Linked DNA regions of Homo sapiens: region 2 is linked to region 1. Evidence: fine-mapped expression QTL. A gene starts in region 1. The other region holds a variant in brackets. All regions are shown on one strand. Distances are between the middles of the regions.

Region 1 (9,181 bases):
CAGTGGAAATGTACCATACTTCCATTCAATTTGCAGGATTTCATCTATTATCTTCAGCAACGGGAAGGAGAGAAAGAAATGATTCATATAGATGATTCTATGAATCATGATTCATGATTCTGCATACCTCCACTCAATAACTTCTTGCTTCACAGTGGGCACAGAATAGGAGATGGTCAGCTGCTGTTCTATGTCTCAGTTCTCACATGCCTCACACCCAAGCAGTTCACGTCACCTGTGCTCAAAATAACAAACGCCATGCAGTTCCAACATGGAAAAACAAGATCTGGCCGTATGGGGCTTCCTGAGAGACCCACCGCTTGTCAGTCTCTGATATGACTCCCTCTTGGGGTACTTTGAGGGTACTCAATTTTCACCTTATTCATTTAGATACAGACCCTATTTAGAGAAACATTACTATATACTGGGATGGGCTGCTTTACTTGACCCTGGAATTTCTTTCCAAGAAGGCACATTTAGGTAATTGTAGCTCACAGTGCCAGAACTGCCACGACGAAAAAGCCCAACCCTCTGTTTCTCTTTCTGTTGTTGGTGAATGTCTAAATGAGGAGAGTGATCATAAGTACATACAGATTAAAAAATGTTAAAAAGAAAAGTAAGGGGAAGGAACAGTGCCTAAGACCTTCCTGTATACAGTGAGTGCTAAGTTACTGCTATGAATTGTCAGACAATCAGCTCCAGCCTAGAAAAGAAAAATCTAATCCCCTATCACAATATACAAAACAATAATATGAACGAAGTCTACAAATATCTAGATAATGTAGAAATTCTAACTTTATTGATCAGTTTTATATCAATATGTGTGTGAGGTAATAAGTGAAATAAATAACAGAGAAAAATGATCACTTCCAGCTTCTATAATACTGTCTCCACTATCATGAGAATGTCTCTTCTCAGACCCACTTCAGCTCCAAAGAACTCCTCCTAAAAAGCACAAGGGCCTTGTGTACGCTGAAATATATTCCCTTTTCTTCTTCACATAACTGACTGATGCAGGTAAATTCTTGTAAGTTAAATGCGCAAAAGACAGGATTCCACTTAGGTAAAGGCTGAGTAGATGATGGCCTTCTTTATTAATTTGCAATTAACTGTCATCTCAATTTCTCTTGGTTAGGTGTCAAGAAGGATATAGAGTCATGAGAGATTTATTCTTTTTTTTTTTTTTTTTTTAAGAGCAGGAAGTAACTGGAAGCGTCTTGCTGAACTGCAACGGAAAAAACAAAGGTTAAAACACCCCAGCACCACTGCCACCTTTCCTGGAGGGCAACTGCTTCTCCTCCATTCCAACCATGTGATTTTGGTGGTGCTGCCAATCAAGTACCCTATCTGCCTAGCTAGCGGAGCAGAAGAGTAGGCACATCACATTCTTGGGTCCTATGTGGCCAATCAAGGTACTTCTGGAATTTCTCTTTATTCTAGGGTGCTTAATCTTGGATGGCATAACACAGGAGTCATCTGCAGTCACATCTTTTATGCATTTATATACAGTCATGTGCCCCAAAAAGACGTTTTGGGTCAACGACAGACCACATATACAACCATGGTCCCCTAACATTACACATAATGGAGCAGAAAAATGCCTGTAGCCCAGTGATGTCACAGCTGTTGTAATGAATGCATTACTCATCTGTCTGTGGTGATGCTGATGTAAACAGACCTACCGCACTGCCAGTAGTATAAAAGCTAAGCACATACAATTATGTGCAGTACATAATACTTGATAATAAACTATGTGCCAGTTTATGTATTTGCTATCCTATACTTTTTATCTTTAGAGTGTACTCATCCACTTATTTAAAAATTTAAAAATTAGCTGTAAAACAGTTTCAGGCAGGTCCTTCAGGAGGTATTCCAGAAGGCACTGTTATCATAAGAGATGACAGTTCCCTATGTGTTACTGCCTCTAAAGACATTCCACCGGGACCTTCCTGACTCTGTGTAGGCCTAGAGTAATGTGTGTGTTTGCGTCTTCGTTTTTAAAGATTAAAATTTTTTGAAATAGAAAAAAGCTAACAGAATAAGGATATAAAGAAAATATTTTTGTACAGCTAATTGTACAATGTGTTTGTATTTTAAGCTAAGTTTTATCACAAAGAAGTTAAAAACTTTTTTAAATTAAAAAGTTTATAACATAAAAGTTACATTACAGTAAGCTAAGGTTAATTTATTATTGGAGAAAGAAAAAATTTTTAATAAATTCAGTGTAGCCTAAGTGTACAGTGTTCAAAAAGTCTACAGTAGTGTACAATAATGTCCTAGGCCTTCACACTCACTCACTACTCACTGCCTCACCCACAGCAACTTCCAGTCCTGCAAACTCCATCCATGGTAAGTGCCCCACACAGGTTCACATTTTTCAATCTTTTAAACTGTATTTTTACTGTACCTTTTCTATGTTTAGATATACAAATACTTGGCCATTGTGTTACAACCACCTACAGTATTCAGTACAGTAACATGCTGTGCTGGTTTATAGCCTAGCAGCAACAGGCCATCCCACATAGTCTAGGTGTGTAGCAGACTACACCATCTAGGTTTGTGTAAGTACACTATGATGCATGCACAATGACAAAATTTGCCTAACCACACATTTCTCAGAACATATCCCCTAACTGTCCCATGACTGTAACAGGAAGAATGAGGCTTGCAATTACAGTTGCAGAGGAGATAGGGAACTGGGGGTTACTGGTCCTTTGCAGAAAGGGAGAGAGACACAAGTACTCCATCACTGGAGTCACTGGATTTAGTGATATAGTGATACCCCAGCCCCTTCCAGGTTTGGAGCCAATAAATCCCTTTTAGCTTAAGCCCATTTGAATTTTCTGTCACTTGCAACAGAAATATCTTTGACTAAAAAAGTATAATTGCTATTACAGTAAACCTAAGAAATTCATAACAGTGAAAAATCCAACGCAAAGCTATATTTCCTTGCTAAAACACAGAACACATTTAATAATGTCATACAGCGTGAAGATAAGTCAAATATTCATTCAAGATTCAGTTAAGAATACAACAGTTTGATCTTACCACTATGTACCGATGACACCTACAGCTGTGGATCAAGAGAACATACGATCTAAACTCTATGAAAGCTATCAATAGATCCAAAGTTAAACATACTTCATTAAATTCAAAAGATCTTACTTCTCATTCACATACATAACTGACATTTTGTGTCACACTGGTTGAAATGTCAATGGAATAGTGAGATACAGCTAAGAATCACCAACATGTCCCAATATTCTGGAAGACAGAAAACATCCATCTGCTGACAATGGTCCAGATACGAAGCAAATATATTAAATATAAAGAAAAAATCAACATATTACTCTGTTAGAGCTCTGGAAAGAATTTTCTCACAAATGCCTCTTTGACCATATAAAGCCCAGTAGTTCAACGAATTTTTTTTCCATTTATCTTTATTGCATATTCTATGGAACAGGCCAGCTATTGCCAGAGGATTCAATACCTATTCTGTGCTTAAATTTAACCATGAGCAAACCCACGTCTTACACAAACATATGCAGATTCTCCATCCACATTTATATTAGATATACCTCAAACCCACACAGGCAGACATAGACATACACAGACAATTAACATGTAATTGTCTCCCAAATGCAGACATTTGGAGTAAGGTTTAGCACCACAAGCTAACATCCATGCTTGTTTTGCTTGGGTTTTGGGGTTTTTCAGTAGGGGAAAGTAGAGTATGGTAGAGGGTGGATGGTGCAGAGGCCAGAAGCCTTCCTATTCATTCTAACAAGAATCTAAGAAGTGGAGGGGGCCTGCTTATTTAAAGAAGGCTCCCCAGCTAGCTATTCCTGATAACCCACGGCCATGGAACCTCTCACCGATCCTACCTCCTCCCACCCTATCCTCCTGTAAAGCACCCCCATTTTGTACACCCAGACACTCTGAGCAGCTGTTTCCCTCCTTCCCCAGATGCCAAGCACAAAGAACTGGCCAAGGCACAGGAGTAGCCTCGAACTTCAGAGGCCCACCTTTCACCCTGCTGCCCTCACTCTGGTGCACAACTTGCACGCGGAGACAAACTGGAACCAGCCTCACAGGGTGCGCACCGATCCTAAGAGGTGGACACCCCATCTAAGCCTCAGGCTCAGGCACCTTGATATCAGTCCCTGGAGGCTAAAGGGGTCCACACCTGTTTCCCAGGCCCGACAGACCGGCTACACACCTGTTCCGCCCGGGAGTGGGGAGGGGCATGACACCCGCCGCCTAGGCTCACAGTCGGGGGAGCGGGCGCGCCAGTCCCTCAGCCTAATTGCCGCACGACTGTAACAGGACAGAATGAGGCTTGCAATTATAGTCGCAAAGTAGATAGGGAACTGAGGGGTTACTGGCCCTTTGCAGAAAGGGAGAGATACACAAATACATCACCGGAGTCACTGGATTTAGTGATACCTCAGCCCCTTCCAGGTTTGGAGCCAATAAATCCCTTTTTACTTAAGCCCATTTGAATTTTCACATTCATTTGGAACCAGTAAGTGGAAATTGCCCGACCCAGTTCCGGGCCAACGTACGACACGCCCCTCCACTCGAGAATCAACCCCGCCCGGCCCGTGGCTCGGGTCCGGTTAGCCCGTCAGGGGCTGCTCTGTTCGCTCCCCGAGGTCCCGCCGCTGTCGCGCGGGGAGGAGACGCCGAGGCTCAGAGACCTGTCGCGCGCTCTCCTCCTACCCTGAATACGGCCCCTCAATCCTGTCTCCTTCCACGGGCCCGCTCTCTGGAAACTCGTTACCTGAGCTTGCTGCCATTCCGGCCGTGGACCGCCGGCCCACGTGACCGCACCCACTGCTCTAGCCTCACGCACGCGCACTACCTACCACTGCGGGCAGCGCTTCCGCTTTCCTCCTCGCACTGCTCCCCCTCCTGGGCGGTCCGCGCCTCTTCACCACGCCCCTATTTAAAGGGCCAGAGATACGCCGTCTTCCCCCCTACGGAAAAAATGGGTGATTCACATCTTGAGGACCAAGAGAATGGAAACGTCGAAAGAGTAGCGCAGACAAATAAATAACAGTCCTTGAGGTGAGAGGAGAAAGCTCCTCCTTTAAGAAAGTGAACTTACTTGCAGCCAGCCCAGAAGGGAAGTTGATTCCCTGCCTTTTGGAGTTTGCAACCAGTAAATTTTTTTTAACTTTTTTTTTTTTTTAAAAGATGAACTCAGAATTGCCTATTTATTGTGTCAAATAAGTACAATAGGCACACACATACTAAAATACCAACTATTATCTTGTAATATATCATCAGTGTTGCTCCCCAAAATACATCTTAACACCAAAAATACAGGAGAAACATAGTCTCAAATAAAGGAAACATCTGAAAAATGAACAAAAACGTATGCTTATTTCTCTTATCGCTCCTGAAGAAAGGTGAAAGCTTTCAGAACAGACTGGTTTCTAGAGTCATCACTGTACGTAACATTAGCCCCAGGACACAGATTTTAGGCCTGCTGGGGGCTATATAGGTCAAGAAAACAGGAGGAAGAACACCAGAAGATACTCTTGGAAGGAGATACAGAAAATATTCGGTTGGGCAGACATTTTTGAGCATCAGCTAGGTTCACTAGACTTCTGGGCCTTCAGAAGACCCGAAGGTGTTGCCCTGTCCTCCAGGTATTTATTTTCTAAGAATTCAGTGTACAGACATAACAAAATACAAGGCAGGCTGTTTTGAGTAATATAAAGAAAGACATTGAACCACCATTTTCGCACAGACAGGGGGAAAGGGTGAAACACTCAAGGAAGGATGTGGTATCTTGTCAGGGCCTTGAAGGATTTCAGTAGCAGAGAGCAGGGAGAATGCCTAGCTGAGGGAAGGGTGGGATCAAAGGCAGTACAAAGCAAGTTTGGGAACTAGTTATTGGCCTGATGTAGCCGTGGTGTGGCCAGTGGCTTTCAACCTTCTTTTAATCATCCCTCACAGTAAGAAATACATTTCAGGCCAGGTGCGGTGACTCATGCCTGCAATCCCAGCACTTTGGGAGGCTGAGGCAGGTGGTCAGGAGTTCAAGACCAGCCTGACCAACATGGAGAAACCCTGTCTCTACTAAAAATACAAAAATTAGCCAGGTGTGGTGGCATGCACCTGTGGTCCCAGCTACTCGGGAGGCTGAGGCAGGAGAATTGCTTGAACCCAGGAGGCAGAGGTTGCAGCAGTGAGCCAAGATTGTGCCATTGCACTCCAGCCTGGGTAACAGAGTGAGACTCCGTCTCAAAAAAAAAAAAAGATACATTTCAGCCATGGCCTAGTATAAAAACACACACAGTATGCGCATATGTGTGAGTGTGCATTATAGATAGATAGATAGATAGATAGATAGATAGATAGATATGCTGAAACAGTAATTGCCCTTAGAGTGTACAATGCAACTTGGTATTTTCTATTCTATTCTCTTTTTTTAAGTGCTGGTTACTGAATTCATTTCAGTACTCAGTGATGCAGAGCAACCCATAGTTTGAAGACACTGGTGTAGTGTGTATTAGAGATGTGGTGGGCTATGAGGCTGGAAAGGCTAGGACCAGATCCAGGAAGACATTGCACGCTAAGCTGGGGTGTTCTGCTCTTCTGGTGAGAGTCTCCAGAGGAACTCGAGCAGAGGAGTGGCAAGATGATAGCTGTGCTTTAGAAGGCTGGAAACCGGCCTTTGGTTCTGAATATCACATTTTTCTAGTAAAGCTATTAAACTAGAGACTGTCTACAGAAGGATAAGCAAGCTGGTGAGACCAGAAAGCCTGTGTGACAGAGAACTTTTGAAAGTATCCAGAGGAAAAGAAATTAGCAGAAGTAGGGGAGAGCAGGGTCATAGGGGTGAGCAGTGGAAAGGTAGCTATTAGGTTGGTACACAAGTAATTGCGGTTTTTGCCATTACTTTAAAAAACTGACCCTTTTGAAATATCTCTGCAACACTCATAGACTTATTCTGAATAGCTGTAGAAAGAAAGCAAGCCTACGACCTGTGTATGGACGTTGCAGAGAGGCAGATTTCAACTTATAATAAAGAATATTTTAGGATGGTCCAGACTGACTCTGAGACCTCTCCAAAGTAACAGCCCTTTTATGTACCTCTGTTCACAGCAGGAAGTAATCTCAAATGCTATCCTTTCCAGGGCTGTTTGCCTTAATAATAATAAAAAAAAATGTGTGCTTATTGTAGAAAACTTGGAAAATTCAGGAAATATTTTAAAATAAAGCAGAAATTACCCACATCCCAGAAAAAGGCACTTATAGTTTTGGCTTATCCGTTGGATCTTTTTCTTTGTATATTTACATTTGTGACATAATAGAACTGCATAGAATATTTAGTTGTGTATTCTATATATTTATAGGATATATAGTTAATAATCCATCCTCTTTTTTTCACTATTATATCTTGAGCACTATCCACCATCACTAAAATTGTTCACAAATATTATTTGTCATGGCTACATAATTATTAATGATATAGTTTCATGTATTTCATTATTCCACTATTTTTGGACATATACAGGAGTTCCTATTTTTTACTGCTAACAAGAACATTGCCATGAATATCCTTACACATTATCTTTGCCCACATTTTAAAATTATTTCCTTCCTTAGGCTAGCAACCTATAAGTGGAATTACTGATTCAAAGGCTTTGAAAACTCTTAAGTCTGTGAATACCCGTGGTCAAACTGCCTTCCAGAAATGTCAGGCCAGTTTTCATTCTCACCAGAAGCTCTCAGTGGTGCCCATCACACGCACCCCCACTGGCATTTATTTTATCTTAAAAAAAAAAAGATTTGCCAATATGATAGATGAAATGGTCTCTCATTTTAACCTGTATGGGATTACTATTGGAGTGGAATATCTATATAAATTTATCAGCCCTTTATAATTATTCTGGGAATGCAGTTTCACTGCTGGATTTGTGATTGCAAATAGTACTGAGTGAATTGTTACAGACTTGTGAGGAAAAAAAAACAGAGAATGATGTTTAAAATAAATGATGTGGTCACACCAAGTTATAGGCAAATTATATTGTGGTGTGCTGCACTAACAAAGGGTAGTGGGAGAATTGAGTCATCACACAGTATTACAATATTCATGTGAATATTGGCTCCAGCAAAATATCATTCCTTATATTAAATCAAAATTGTAGATTTGCATTTCCTCATTTGGTAGTTTTGTTTGTATTCAATTTATTTTTTTAGTTTTATAGATGCATAAAATCTATAAAAATCAGGAGCTCTTAGTTTTGTGTTTGCATATATACATACACATATATGTATGCAACATTATAAAAAATTATAAGCTAACTCTAGATATCTGTGAGAATCTTTTCCCCTTACAAAGGATCTGAACGATATCCAAGTTTGAGAAACAGTGATACTGGAATTTCTTAAAGTTTCATTTGTACTTATCTAAACACAGGTATTGAGATTTTTTTGCAAGGCAAAATTTGCATCAGCTTATATATTGGAATTTTTCCATATAGAATAGTGTAATGATTTTCTTCTTTTTGGAAAGAGTACCAAAAGCTCTACTATGTTTGGGGTTCAGAGAGTATGTTTTGACTTAAAATGTACCATTCATCAGTTAACTTTCTACAGGTCAGTAAGACCTAGACAGAAGAATGTTTGTGTTTACTAAACTTGTAAGTAAGAGAAAGCAGTTGAGCAGATAGTGATTACAATGGAGCTTTTGTGAAGTGGTCTTAAGAGAAATTAAGCCAATGAGAAAAAAGGTTGCATGTGAGCTCTCAGAGCCTTGGGAAGCAGTGAGGGCTGGCCTGCGGGGTGCACAGGAGCTAGAAGAGGGCGCCACTGAGGGCTGCCACAGTTGGATGGTGTCCTTACACCGGCTCTATTGCCTCCAGCTCTCCCCAAGAGTGAAGGATGCAGACCTCGACCCAGACATCACTATTACCCCTGCATCTAGAATAAGCCACATCTCTTCTGAAGGAAAAAAATGTCTGTTCCTGAGAGCAAAAGGCAGAGAATAGGAGATGGATGCCTTTGTCATTTCTTTTTTGCTCACAATCACAAAATAAACTGGCCTCTTTTCCTTTTTTAAAAAGGGAACTTGTTGGAGCACAGAGAACTTTTAGGGCAGTGAAATGATTCTGTATGATGCTATAATAGTGGAAACATCATAAATTTGTCCAAAGCCACAAAA
Region 2 (9,181 bases), 190 kb before region 1:
AGAAATAATCAGCAGAGTAAACAGACAGCCCATAGAGTGGGAGAAAATATTCACAAATTATGGATCTAACAAAGGACTAACAACCAGAATCTACAAGGAACTCAAACAAATCAGCAAGAAAAAAACAACCCCATCAAAAAGTGGGCAAAGGATGCAAATAGACAATTCTCAAAAGAAGACATACAAACGGCCAAATGTATGAAAAAATGCTCAACATCACTAAACTATCAGAGAAATGCAAATTGAAACCGCAATAAGACACCACTTTACTCCTGCAAGAATGGCCCTAATTAAAAAATAAAAAAGAGCTCTCCCTCTCCCTCTCCCCGCGGTCTCCCTCTCCCCACGGTCTCCCTCTCCCTCTCTTTCCACGGTCTCCCTCTGAGGCCGAGCCGAGGCTGGACTGTGCTGCTGCCATCTCGGCTCGCTGCAGCCTCCCTGCCTGGTTCTCCTGCCTCAGCCTGCCGAGTGCCTGCGATTGCGGGCGCGCGCCGCCACGCCTGACTGGTTTTCGTATTTTTTTGGTGGAGACGGGGTTTTGCTGTGTTGGCCGGGCTGGTCTCCAGCTCCTAACCACGAGTGATCCGCCAGCCTCGGCCTCCCGGGGTGCCGGGATTGCAGACGGAGTCTCGTTCACTCACTGCTCAATGGTGCCCAGGCTGGAGTGCAGTGGCGTGGTCTCGGCTCGCTGCAGCCTCCACCTCCCGGCCGCCTGCCTTGGCCTCCCGGGGTGCCGAGATTGCAGCCTCTGCCTGGCCGCCACCCCATCTGGGAGGTGGGGAGCATCTCTGCCTGGCTGCCCAGTCTGGAAAGTGAGGAGCGTCTCTGCCCGGCCGCCATCCCATCTAGGAAGTGAGGAGCGTCTCTGCCCGGCCGCCCATCGTCTGAGATGTGGGGAGCGCCTCTGCCCCGCCACCCCGTCTGGGAGGTGAGGAGCGCCTCTGCCTGGCCGCGACCCCATCTGGGAGGTGAGGAGCGTCTCTGCCCGGCCGCCCCGTCTGAGAAGTGAGGAGACCCTCCGCCCGGCAGCCGCCCCGTCTGAGAAGTGAGGAGCCCCTCCGCCTGGCAGCCGCCCCGTCTGAGAAGTGAGGAGCCCCTCCGCCCAGCAGCCACCCCGTCTGGGAAGTGAGGAGCCACTCTGCCCGGCCACCACACCGTCTGGGAGGTGTACCCAACAGCTCATTGAGAACGGGCCATGATGACAATGGCGGTTTTGTGGAATAGAAAAGGGGGAAAGGTGGGGAAAAGATTGAGAAATCGGATGGTTGCTGTGTCTGTGTAGAAAGAAGTAGACATGGGAGACTTTTCATTTTGTTCTGTACTAAGAAAAATTCTTCTGCCTTGGGATCCTGTTGATCTATGACCTTACCCCCAACCCTGTGCTCTCTGAAACATGTGCTGTGTCCACTCAGGGTTAAATGGATTAAGGGCGGTGCAAGATGTGCTTTGTTAAACAGATGCTTGAAGGCAGCATGCTCGTTAAGAGTCATCACCAATCCCTAATCTCAAGTACCCAGGGACACAAACACTGCGGAAGGCCGCAGGGTCCTCTGCCTAGGAAAACCAGAGACCTTTGTTCACTTGTTTATCTGCTGACCTTCCCTCCACTATTGTCCTATGACCCTGCCAAATCCCCCTCTGCGAGAAACACCCAAGAATGATCAATTAAAAAAAAAAAAAAATGAGAAAAAATAAAAATAAAAATAAAAATAAAAATAAAAAAATATTAGATGTTGGCATGGATGTGGCAGAAAGGCAACACTTTTACACTGCTAGTGGGAATGTAAACTAGTACAACTATTATGGAAAACAGTATGGAGGTTCCTTAAAGAACTAAAAGTAGAACTACCATTGGATGCAGCAATTCCATTACTTGGTATCTACCCAAAGGAAAATAAGTCATTATATGAAAAAGACACTTGTACATGCATGTTTATAGCAGCACAATTTGCAACTGCAAGATGTGGAACCAACCTAAATGTCCACCAACCAAGGAGTGCATAAAGAAATGTGGTATACATACACCATGGAATACTACTCAGCCATAAAAAGAAACAAAATAATGGCATTTGCACAATCTGGATGGAGATGGAGACCATTATTCTAAGTGAAGTAACTCAGGAATGGAAAACCAAGCATCTTATGTTCTCATTTATCAGTGGGAGCTTAACTATGGAATGCAAAAGCATAAGAATGAAATAATGGACTTTGGGGACTCAGGGAGGGGGGAAGGACTGGAGCAAAGTAAGGGATAAAAGAGTACACACTGGGCATAGGGTACACTGCTTGGGTGATGGGTGCACCAAAATCTCAGAAATCACCACTAAATAACTTTTCCAAGTAATCAAAAACCACCTGTTCCTCAAAAACTATGGAAATAAAAAATTTAAAAATAAAATTAAATGGTTTCCGAACCTTTCTTGATGCTCGAGAAGGTAGGAAGAAATTCAGTGAACAGATTACCTTTCTTCACTGCAAGAGGTGTGGGGAACATAGGAAGAGGGCAACCAATGTAGTGTAAATGGCTTTCAAAATTTTACACCAATTCATGAAAAATTTCTCAAGAAAACTTGGAATAAAAAGGAATTCCCTAAACATGATATAAAGGTTACAGACTAAAAGCCTACAGTTAACATTACACTTACCAATGAAAAAATATAATGCCATAAGTATTGGCACACATGAGTACTTAACTTGGTCCTTGCTTGCCTAATGAACCTCACCTCATTTCACTCTCTTTCTGACCCTCTTAATTTCATTCTACTTACCTTCTAGTTCTGGGTTTGTTGCACTTAAACTCGTCTAGCTTACTCCTTTTCTTTTCCCTTCAAGGGAAGCTAACAGGGCACTTCTAGCAGGCCTTCCATGATCCCTCATGTCTATTTTATATCTACTCATTATCTGTACTTACAGCATAGTTCATCTGTAAGTACTTGTGGTATAATAAAAATACATATATTTGGCCTTTGTCTTAGGTTCCTGGCACACAGCTCCTAAAACCCTTGGAATCTCCTGAGTGATGAGAGTGTCTTTTGCATGAGAATAAGATGACTGCTGGCTGGAGACCCCTGGATAGCTTCAGCATGAGGGCTAGGTGCCAGAAAGACCAAGCCATGGTTAGAGGTTTGGAACTTTCAGCCCCATCTCCCAACCTGTGCAGAGGGGAGAGGGGCTGGAGATTGAGCTCAATCATAAATGACCAATAATTTTCAGGCATGACTACATAACGAAACCTCCAAAAAAAACCTGTAAATGGTGGGGTTGAGGAGCTTATGGGTTGGTGTAGACATTGATGTGCTAGGAAGGTGGTAGGCCCAGAAAGGGCATGGAATCTCTACCACTCCTCATCCCCCTCCCCAACCTTGCCCTATGCACCTCTTCCATTTGGCTCTTCCTCAGTCGCATCCTTTATAATAAATTGGTAAATGTAAATAAAGTGTTTCCTGAGTTCTGTGAATCATCCTAGTGAATTATGGAACCTCAGAGGGGGTCATGGGGACCACTGAATTTGCAGCCAAGTCAGACAAAAGTAGGTAGCCTGAGTACTTTGTTTGTGACTGGCATCTAAAGTGAGGACTGTTCGTGTGGGACTGAACCCTTAAACCATGGAGTCTCTAACTCTAGCTAGTATCAGAACTGAACTGAATTGGAGTCAGAAAAAACTTGAGAGTACTCTGTTAAAAATCCTTTTATAAGTTTGTTGACTGTATACTCTGAAAGACAAGACCATGTTTGCCTTGTCTACCATTGTATCCCCAGGCACCTGGCACAGTGCCTATCACACTGTTCAATACAAACTTGGGGAAGGTATAATTGGAAAGGCTACCACTGGAGAGTAGAAGTTCTACATTGTTATCTGGAGAGAAGTTAGTCAGGAGGTTTTCCCAGGCTCTGCTTCTAATACAATGCTGATGGCTGATGAAACAAAAAGAGAGGCCGGGTGCGGTGGCTCACGCCTGTAATCCCAGCACTTTGGGAGGCCGAGGCGGGCAGATCACGAGGTCAGGAGATCGAGACCATCCTGGCTAACACGACGAAACCTCAACTCTACTAAAAATACAAAAAATTAGCAGGGCATGGTGGCATGCACCTATAGTCCCAGCTACTCGGGAGGCTGAGGCAGAATGGCGTGAACCCAGGAGACGGAGCTTGCAGTGAGCTGAGATCGCACCACTGCACTCCAGCCTGGGCAACAGAGCGAGACTGCATCTCAAAAAAAAAAAAAAGAAACGAAAAGAGAAAAGTAACAAGCCCAACTTTTCACTATGTGATGTGAATGTGAAGGCCAACTATAGGATAGGGTAGCACAGAGGAAGGAACAGGAAGCCAAAAATATGATACTACCTCAAAGAGGAAGTATAGCCGAGTAGAGCACAATGATCAAGTCCCAGTCCCAGTAACTTCTCCACATTGAACCCCTCATGTTGTCAAGCTCTGCTCTCCTGAAAACTATCAAGCGGTAGAGTTCAAACTCTGCTCCACTGTCTGCTTTAAAAAAAGGCTGTAAAATACATAAAATTATCATCTAGTCCAGTAGTCAGACTCCAAAGGCAGTGAAAGAGCATATGTGTATGCACCTTGTCCATCATCAGCCCTACTTAAAAGTCATAATTCTGCACTCTTATCATATAGGTACTCATTGGTACCTGCAAGTACTCAGCTGTACTTGCTAAGCTGTTACTCTATCAAAAGGTCTTAAAAGCAGGCTCATGTGTGTACACCTCA[T/C]CTGTCCAACTGGATCTTAAGCCGTTTAAAGGCAGAAAATGTCATCTGTTGCTCTCAAATTCATGTTTTTCCATACTGAGTAGAGAGGAGAGGCTCTTCGAACACTAAATAGGACTGAAAAGAACATTTCATGTACCCAATACCCACCAGGTAAATTTGTTGAGACCTATGGAACCGAAGGAAATGAGACCAGGCCCAAATGACATTGGTAAGAAAAGACCATTTCCATTTTGCCACGAAAACAAGTCTTACCTGTGATGGGGTTATCCTTCCCTTTTTAATTTCAGATGAATTTTCACTGAGTTTTCCTACTTTGTTACTTGAACTGCATTTGTAGCATGTCCATCTTGTTTGGCCCTCAAATTCCACAGTGCATTCTTTGTTTTGTAGGCAGAATGAGTGATACAAATGGCCACAGCTGCAAAACGAAGGCAACCAATTTGTACTTTTTATTATCACAAAATCCATAAATATAAGCTTGTAAGTGTACTTAGAAGCAATAAAAATCTCTAACAAGTAGAAATGCACTGATGGCTGTACAGGGTAAGAAACAAGAAAGGGAATGTACTTGCTGCTGTCCTCTCTTTTTAAAAATCCACATTCATACATATATTTGTATACTTATGTTGTGAGTACGAACAAATCACAGTTCTCTGACTAAAAACTACCTAGAGGATGAGTTGAACTTCTGTTCATTTCTCAAACTATGAAATCCGGATAGTATTTTTAGATAATCTGAAAAAAAGGCAACTGGGGGCTGGGCGTGGTGGCTCACGCCTGTAATCCCAGCACTTTGGGAGGCCGAGGTGGGCAGATCAGCTGAGGTTAGGAGTTTGAGATCAGCCTGGCCAACATCGTGAAACCCCGTCTCTACTAAAAATACAAAAAATTAGCTGGACGTGGTGGCAGGTACCTGTAATCCCAGCTACTTGGGAGGCTGAGGCAGAAGAATTGCTTCAACCCGGGAGGCGGAGGTTGCAGTGAGCCAAGATCGTGCCACTGCACTCCAGCCTGGGCAACAAGAGCAAAACTCTGTCTCAAAAAAAAAAACCAAAAACCAAAAAATTAGCCAGGTGTGGTGGCACACACCTGTAGTCCCAGATACTCAGGAGGCTGAGGCATGAGAATCGCTTGAACCTGGGAGGCAGAGGTTACAGTGAGCTGAGATTGCTCCACTGCACTCCAGCCTAGGAGACAGAATGAGACTCCATCTCAAAAAGAAAAAAAAAAGCAACTGGAAAAAATCATAATTATTTAAGTAGCTTGATAACAACATGAGTGGTCTGCTCACCAAATTCAAGGCAAGGGTTGTGATTTGATTAAACATTTACAAAAATGTCATTGCTGTAGTAAATCCTTACGCTATTCTTATAAAGAAATTCCCTATTGATTACACTAAATTACCAAATCAGCCTCCCAGAAGTTGAGTACTGAGAATAATTCTCAGCCATCTACACTGATTTATCTTCATTTCTCTAATCTAAAATGTCGGACATTCCAGAAATCAAACCTTTTCTTTTCTATAGTCTTTATACTCTTTTTCTTTTTTCTTCCCTTCTCTCTCTCTCTCTCGCTATATATATATATATATATATATATATATATATATATATATATATATATATATATATATAAACTTCCTCTTCTATACTCTGTTGTTGTAGCTACCTTTGCTCCTTTAGAGATTACTTCCAGGTTCCATAGCTTTAAAATACCACTACCTTCTAAATATATCCAGAATCCTACCACTTCTTACTTCATGACTATTACCTAGACCATCTCTCACATGGGCTACTACAACAGCCTAAGTGGTCCATCTGCTTTCCCCCTTGATCTCTCTAGTCCTTTCTTAACACAGCAGTCAGAGTAATCCTTAAGACATAGGTCAGATCATGTCACCGCCCCAGTCCTCAAAACCATCCAGTGGCTTCGCATCTCAGAGTAAAAGTCTCACTTTCATTATAAAAATGAGTTAGACTTGGGCCAGCTCCTACATGATTTGGCCTCTGCTCCTCTGAAGTCTCTTTCACTGTCCCCTTCCTTGGCTGCTCAGGTGCCACTAGCCTCCTCACTCACTACTCCTCAAGAATGCCAAGGCTCTCCCGCCTCATGGTCTCTGCACTTGGCTCCTCTGCCTGGTGTACTCTCTTCTGACGTTGCATGGCCACTTCCTTTAGATCCCCTCAAACGTCACTTAAACAAGAAGGCTTTCCTGGACTACTCTATAAATTAGTAGCTCCCAACATTCCTTTTCCTCTATAGCATAGCTTGTTTTTTATTCATGTAACTATTATTTTTCTATTAATTAATTTTTAAGTTGTCTGTTCATAAGTCACCTTAACAGTGAGCCTTTCCCTGACCAACCTATATAAAATATCTGCACCCCCCACCAAACACTCTGTATCTCCTTTAACATTTTTTCCCCCATGGTAGTTATCAGTATCTGGCATTTCACTTGTTGGCTTATGGTCTATCCCTGCCACTACAATGTAAACTCCATGAGGGCAAATCCTTTGTTTTGTTCATCCTGTATCCTATCCCCTTGAATAGCAGCTTGCATACAGCAGGTGCTCAATAAATATTTCTTGCCTGAATGGGCTCTTTGTGTGAAGAGAACTACTTCCCCTTCCAACCATCAAGTCTACCAATCTTCCTGCAGATGTAACACTCAGATAGTGCTTACTCATGCCAGGCACTGTTACAAGTGCCTTATATAAATCATCTCATTCAATCCTCACAAAACCCTACTATCCTATTTACAGATGAGGAAACTAAGATATAAAGAGGTTAAATAACTTGTCCAAGGTCTCACAGCTGGCATGTAGTAGAGTCAAGACTTGAAGTCAGGAAGTTTGGATCCACGGCCATATCATGTTACCTCTATCCATACATTCTAGATGAGCTGTCTTTGCTCCTGAGACCAACACCTTCACTCTGCACTAGGGTTCCTCTCTCTTTGCAATGTAGCTTAAATATCATATGCTGACAACTTCTAAATTAAAATTTTCCAGTCTCAACACATCTCCAGATTTCTGACTTGAATAACTGTCTAGCTGGCATCCCTACCTGATGTCTAACAGTACATTTCAAACCTAACACGTGCAAGACAAAACTCTTGATTTCCCCAGTTCCTTGTACCTGTTCTTCCTCATCTTAGACAACGGTACCATGTTTACCCAATTGCTCAGACCAAAGATTCATTTTTCTCTTATACTCCACATCTAATACACCAGCAAGTTATCCCTACCTTTAAAGGATACTCAGAATCCAAACACCTCTCAGCACCTTTGCTCCTCCCTCTCTCGTTCTGCTCAAAGGTCATGTCCTCAGATATGCTTTCCCTCATTCAACAGCACTTGTCCTGAACTCATCATCCTTCTATCTATTTGTCCTGTGTTTTATTTTTCTCCATAGCTCTTATTCCTCTGTATTTATGTCTTTCCTGGGCACCCTAACCTCCACCCCAATGCAGAATGTAAGGTCTGTGAGGGCAGGAACTTGCCTATCACGTTCACTGCTAGAATGACTACCCGTGTATCCATGTGGATTCTTGCCTGGTAATGCCACAGATGTACATGTACCATACATGTAACATTTCCTTCCCTTTCTTACCTAAAGACAATTATTTCATCAGCCATTTCTTGGCGTCTCTTGTACTGCTGCAAACATATAGAGCAGTAATCTTGTTTGGGATTCAGTCCTCTGGTGACCGAAGCTCTCAGGTTACACAATGACCAATGGAGATCTTGGTTTAGAAGGCTGGTTGTTGTTTCCAGCAGGGTCTATGAAACACCAAAACAAAAAACAAACAAACAAAAGGTTATAAGATGAAAGAGATAGAGGAGATGAATGGTGAATAGCACTTGTTTAGTTTTCAACTACCAACAGCTAAAATTGAAACACACTATAAAGGGATAACATTGTTGAAACAAAAAAACATCAAAACCTCCCAAATTCAAGCAGTTAACCTCAATGTGCAGAGTAATGGTGAGTGTATACATTACAAAGATTCTCAAATCTGTCATTAGTTTCTATTGAGAAATGTGAGCTCTGCCATTCTGCAGCTTCATTCAGTATTGATGGCTTTCAAATGACTAGATAAGCCCAAATATATTTATTACATTTATATAATAACTGCTCTCTGAATGGCTCAGAGTGTTGTAATAAAGAATACAGCTAAGTCTGAATCCCAGATTTTTTACTGAAACTGCATTCGTGGTAATGTTTCAAATATCTTTTCACTAGTAAAGCTAATGGCCATTACTCTATTTTCATCTTCCTTGGGCAGAGAGATCACATTTTCCTGATCAGCACTTAGAAGTCATTTGCATCTACTCAAGACCATGACATCTATCATTAAGTCACATAAAGACATTTTAACAGCTATCACATTAAGTCATTTTAAGGCTCTATGTATTTATATAGTATTGTTTTTGTACTGTATCTCATTCTTAAC

The links. PIP is the estimated chance that this variant, and not a neighbour inherited with it, causes the effect.
Region 2: its variant is fine-mapped to the expression of VPS8 in blood mononuclear cells (TOPMed, PIP 0.96).

The regions. Positions count from the first base shown.
Region 1 is chr3:184,807,828-184,817,008 of GRCh38, reverse strand. VPS8 (VPS8 subunit of CORVET complex) reads right to left here and starts at 4,843. Exons shown (of 48, transcript NM_001009921.3): 1 at 4,784-4,843. RefSeq lists silencers at 2,533-2,582, 2,593-2,682 and enhancers at 4,716-4,915, 4,976-5,025.
Region 2 is chr3:184,995,658-185,004,838 of GRCh38, reverse strand. VPS8 (VPS8 subunit of CORVET complex) reads right to left here. Exons shown (of 48, transcript NM_001009921.3): 44 at 8,338-8,507; 45 at 4,978-5,143. Among named protein-coding and RNA genes, the nearest start is that of C3orf70, 150 kb to the left of the region's middle. The variant T/C (reference allele first, on the strand shown) is at 4,726.